Linked DNA regions of Homo sapiens: region 2 is linked to region 1. The links come from fine-mapping of genetic effects on gene expression. Tissue or cell type: blood mononuclear cells. Region 1 holds a variant in brackets; the other region holds the start of a gene. All regions are shown on one strand. Distances are from middle to middle.

The links.
Region 2: it holds the start of SMU1, and the variant in region 1 is fine-mapped to the expression of SMU1 in blood mononuclear cells (TOPMed, PIP above 0.99).

Annotation. Positions count from the first base shown.
Region 1 is chr9:33,053,812-33,056,727 of GRCh38, reverse strand. SMU1 (SMU1 DNA replication regulator and spliceosomal factor) reads left to right here. Exons shown (of 12, transcript NM_018225.3): 9 at 489-615. Among named protein-coding and RNA genes, the nearest start is that of SMU1, 21 kb to the left of the region's middle. The variant C/T (reference allele first, on the strand shown) is at 1,255.
Region 2 is chr9:33,075,495-33,078,410 of GRCh38, reverse strand. SMU1 (SMU1 DNA replication regulator and spliceosomal factor) reads left to right here and starts at 1,737. Exons shown (of 12, transcript NM_018225.3): 1 at 1,737-1,828. The coding sequence starts at 1,803. RefSeq lists enhancers at 1,356-1,555, 1,726-1,875.

The sequences.
Region 1 (2,916 bases):
TGTGATATGGAGAGGGAAGGTATGTGAGACCTTATGTCCCCAAAGTACAACTGACACTTGTTGTTGTGTCATTTGAGTTTTTACCCAGAAGAGACATTTGAAAGGGGGTAGCAGTGCTTCATGTTTCTCAGAGTATGGTCTTATGGACCTACCTGCATCATAATCACTTTAGAGGGTCTGTTATACTCTAAAGGACCCAGCTGAGACCCACTGATCTCAATCTCCTGCTAACTTGTTTTTTAGAGGTCTGTCCCTGAACAGAAGCTTGTGGTATTACTGGCATATTTTCTTCCAGCCTCTTTCTTTGCAAAGCTTTTGTTTGATTGTTTGATATAGTGAAAATTACACCGTATACACAATCACATAGCCCTCTTCACTTAATATTATAACATGAGCTTCTGTAATTTATCTAAAATGCATTCAATCGTTGGTCACAACCATAAGATATTAAATATTTATTGTTCTTTTCATTTACTTTCATTTGGTAGAATTCATGGTTTAAAATCTGGGAAAACCCTGAAGGAATTTCGTGGCCATTCCTCCTTTGTTAACGAAGCAACATTTACACAAGATGGACATTACATTATTAGTGCATCCTCTGATGGCACTGTAAAGGTTAAGTATTTGCTATCAGTTTATTTTGGGATGTCTACCCCATCTTTGTCCTTTGAGGAGTTTTCAGTGGTGATAATGGGAATGATTGTGCTGTAGTAAACCTCTTTCCTGGCTATTTTAGCTGTAATTGAGGTGAGTCTGAGACAACAACAGTATTCTGTGGGTAATTCCCATTGGCCTTGGGACCCCAATCTCAAACCTTTTCAATCCAAACAAACTTTATCATGTGTAGGAAAAGAGGAAGGGTGAAGAGTCCTAAACTTAAGCCATCCCCCATTCACAGATACACATGGTGGTTAAATCTGTTTTGCCATAGGTATGGTCCACCTGCTAACAGTCAAATTCACGAAAGTCTCAGTGGCCTAATAAATAGATCTCTTTTTTGTTGCACAGCCTCACTGCACTCCTGGTCCCCAGATTTAGGGCCTTCCTAGTAGCATTTATAGAGGAATAGGAGAGGTGTTGAGTAAAACTAAGCCTTCTCCTAGATAGTTATTTAATAAGTAATTTGCTGAAAGTAATGGATCTTCAGTACCTTTAAAGATTTAGTTATTTGAAGAGAGGTTCTCATTTCCTAGAAAAGATATGAGAAACCCAAATAGAAAATTATTAGAGATCTTTGAGACACTATTTACATTC[C/T]GGACCTAATCTTTTTGAATTGTCTTATATGAGTGAGTACTTTGTGGCAGAAGATCTAGACATTTTAATAAAACATTTTAATACAAATATCTAGATATTTTAGATACATATTTAAGTATCTAAAATTCAGACAGCCAGGGGTGGTGGCGTATACCTGTATTCCTAGCTACTTGGGAGGCTGAGGTGAAAGGATCACTCGAACCCAGGAGTTTGAGGCTGCATTGAGCAATTTTCTCACCACTGTACTTCAGCCTGGGCAACAGAGCAAGAACCTGTCTCAGTCAATCAATAAATGTATGTATATATATATATGTATATATGTCAGACCACCGTCTGAAATTGCTGTTCATGATTGGAAATCGAACTGGAAACCCGAAGGCAGGAGATGTATGCTCCCTTGGGATGTATGGGGAAATCACACAGAGCTGTTAGTACTTCAGTCATGGGATTTGCTCTCATGCTATGCATATGGGCCTCACAACTTGTAAATGCCACTGGAAGATGGCTTATCTAAGGTTCCTTATTTTGTGGTCTTTCCCCCTTAGTTCTGCAGTGAGTGGGGCAAAGCGTGTCACTGACCTTTTGAATGGAAAACACTGGAAGCCTTAGCGTTCTTAATTCCTGAAATGTTCATTTTTTCTTCTAAGCAACTGGGCTTCAGAGGAGATTAGGGCAGGCAATAACAGTGTTGACACCAGGGCAACTGTTTTCTCCTGTTTATGGGTATTTATTCAACATCTGCTTTCTGCTAAGCTCCATGGAAGGCACAGAGGAAACACAGCAGAGTCCATGCCTTAGAGACTTTGTACCTGATGAATTGAGTGGTATCAGGACAATGCTATTTAATGTTTGATCCATCCCTTCTCTAAGCACATCTCAGATTTCTGTGCTACCTGATTTAACCCTTTCAGTTCATAGAACCCAGAAGGATAAGGTGAAAAGATAGACCGGGAAAAGTAATGCAAGTGGCCAAGAGTAGCTTCCACTTCAAAGTTCCTCATGTGTGTGTGCTAACATTGTGACTTCTGTTCAGTCATTGTCAGTATAAACTGTACATTGGAATCATTTGTAGCTTTTTAAAAAATGCCTATGCCTCACCCTAGACCTACCACATCAAAATCTCAGGATAGAGTCTCAAGCTAAAAAGCCTCTATTTGAGCCAGGCTTATTGGCACCTGCCTGTAGTCCCGTACTCAGAAGGCTGAAGTGAGAGGATCGCTTGAACTCAGGAGTTTAACGCCAGCAGAGGCAATAGGGCAAAATAGCGAGATCTCATCTCTTTAAAAAAAAAAAAAAAGAAAAGAAAAGCGGTTTTTGTTTTGTTTGTTTGTATTTTATTTTAATTATTTTACATAGAGACAAGATCGCACTATATTGCCCAGGCTGGTCTTGAACTCCTGGCCTCAAGTGATCCACCCGCCTTGGCTTCCCAAAGTGCTGACATTACAGGCGTGAGCCACCATGGCCGACCCCCTGTTTGGTTTTGATATCCAGACAAGGGTAGCTTTCTGGTTGTTTATGACAGTAGCAGTGTTGACAAACAACTAATTTTAAAGAGAGAGAGCTCTATTGGCTAAGGAAAAATGTATGAGAAAAGATCATAGATTTTTAAAAGTTTTTAAGTTTTAGTTTGTGACTTTGGCTTTGCCAATAAATCAACAA
Region 2 (2,916 bases), 22 kb before region 1:
AAAGTGCTGAGATTACAGGCGTGAGCCACCACGCCTGGCCAGATTTATTATTACTGTGCTGCAAATAATTTTTACAATTTATATACAACAGCAATAAAATATTTAAAAATAGGTTTTATGTATGAAGTTCACTGATATCTCTACATTTCATTTGTCACTACAAATGTAATAATGTGTTTGACCTAAAGTCCCGTGACAGGGCGTGGTGGCTCATGCCAGTAATCCCAGCACTTTGGGTGGCTGAGGTGGGAGGATTGCTTGAGCTGGAGGGGTCGAGGCTGCAGTGTGCCACGATCGAGACACTGCACTCCAGCATGGGCAACAAAGCGAGTCCTTGATTCAAAAAAACGCAAAACCAACCAACCAACCAAAATCCTCAATTAACTCTTCCTATAAATTTTGGCTAGTGTTATGTTGGTTTTGAATGTATTAATATCCCATCAGGTATTGCATATTCAGCCTCATCTTAAATCTAATCAACTAATTACATCAAACGAAAGCAACATTGGCTGGGCGCAGTGACTCACGCCTGTAATCCCAGCACTTTGGGAGACCGAGGCGGGCGGATCACGAGGTCAGGAGTTCGAGAACAGCCTGACCAACATAGTGAAATCCCATCTCTACTAAAAATACAAAAAATTAGCCTGGCGTGATGGCAAGAAACCTGTAATCCCAGCTACTCCGGAGGCTGAGGCAAGAGAATCTCCTGAACCCGGGAGGCAGAGTTTGCAGTGAGCCGAGATCGCGCCATTGTGCTCTTCAGCCCGGGCGACAGTGCGAGATTCCGTCTCAAAAAAAAAGCAATCTTTCCAAACCAGTGCTCTTTCTTTTCTTTCTTTTCTTTTCTTTCTTTTCTTCTTTCTTTTCTTTGCTTTTCTTACTACAATCTTATCACCACTACTTTTCTTTTCTTCTTTTGAGACGGAATTTTGCTCTCCTTGCCCAGGCTGGAGTGCAATGGTGTGATCTCGGCTCACCGCATCCACCTCCAGAGGTGAAACGATTCTCCTGCCACAGACTCCCGAGTAGCTGAGATTACAGGCGCCCCCGCCACCACGCCCGGCTAATTTTTTGTATTTTTAGTAGAGACGGGGCTTCACCATGTTGCCCAGGCTGGTCTCGAACTCGCGCGCTGGGAGTACAGGCGCGAGCCACCGCGCTCCGCCCCAGCGCTTTTCTTTTTCAGTACATTTGTGAGCTGTATGGCGCCCGGTGCTTTTTTTCTTTTTCTTTTCTATCTTTCTTTTTTTTTTTTTTTTTTTTTTGAGACGGAGTTGCGCTCTTGTTTTCCATGCTGGGGTGCAATGGCGCGATCTCGGCTCACCGCAACCTCCGCCTCCTGGGTTCAAGCGATTCTCCTGCCTCAGGCTCCCGAGTAGGGATTACAGGCATGCGCCACTACGCCCGGCTAATTTTGTATTTTTAGTAGAGACGGGGGTTTCTCCATGTTGGTCAGGCTGGTCTCGAACTCACGACCTCAGGTGATCGCCCGCCTCGGCCTTCCAAAGTGTTGGGATTACAAGCGTGAGCCACCGCACCCGGCTCCGGCCTGCTTTTAAACAGTCTTCCTCCTGATGCGTATTTCTCTGGGGCAGGGGCATAAACTCCGCCCTCTGACAGCCCCTGAGGGCTCCGCCCCTACGCGAACCTCGCCCCTACTCTTCGTTCACTCTATCTCCAGAGCGGGAGCCAGACGCCGACCCAAGCGGAAGTGACGTTAGGTGTCCGCCGGAGGTGTCGTTGGTGTGTTGCGCGACTGGCCTTGAGGGAGAGCTGGGGCCTGCTCCCGGAGAGATACGGCTATGTCGATCGAAATCGAATCTTCGGAGTGAGTCCTGCGGTGGGGATGTTCGCGCCTTGCCGGGGGCCTGGAGGTTAAGGGTGTGGGGCGGAGGGTACTCGGGAGAAGGCATCCGAGAGGCCAGGGAGTGGAGGGCCATTTCCTTGCCCCCAAAGAAGCATCTTGGATCTCGCTACCTCGGAGGTGGGCCCACAGGAAAGTAGCAGCTCTCAGACGTGAAGCCCAAAACCTCGAGGGAGGTGGCACGGGTGGGGAAAACACACCTTGCAGACCTAAGTTCTGTCCTTGGCCGACTGCTGGCGCGCTGTGATTGACCAAATTAAGGATCCACTCTGGACTCCAGTCTAATTATCTGCGCAAGGGGATAGGTCTCTTTAAGCCTTGCTTCTCTCCCTGTCCAGCTTATGCAATGTGATTCGTTGTCTCTGCTTATACGGCCCCTTTGCTTTTCTCTGCCTAGCGTTTATCACTCAGTATTGTCACTGTTTGATAACCTCACCCCAAACTAGCCTTTGTCGGTGCCTAGGAGCTCCTTTTCCTTGTGGTCTCAGTGTCTAGCATACCTTAGAGGAAGAGTTAATTGCTTTTGGAATGAATGAACAACTAGCTTTTGGAATGAATGAACAACTATCAGGCCCGATCTGGCACGGAATTTTGGGTTGTCTGGGGAGAGACAGACTGGAGACTGGGCTAGAAAGAAAAATTTTCAAGGAATAGGGGATGAGAATTAGTGACTAAAGAAGACCTTAGTGTGCTTTTCCAGAACTCCATCCTCCACCTGTCCTTGCCAACACTTAATAATAATTAAATTAACAGACATAAAAATTGTGTCTGAGTGTAAGGGAGGGAGAGGACCTTTTTTGGAGACTTTTCATAGGAGGAAGGGAGGTTTATGCATTCAGCAAATACTGAAATGATGTTAACCTACTTGTCCAAGGTCACATAACTTTGATTCAAATCCCAGACTATCTTCAAAGCTTCTAGCTCTTTATGTATTCATTTCTGTTTGAAGGTAGGGAATTTGATTTTGGCTATGTCAAATGTGAGCTGTTTGAGGAGAGAGATGACTTATTTTGGGAGTGTAAAATGGAAGTCAACGGACATGTGCTAAGGAA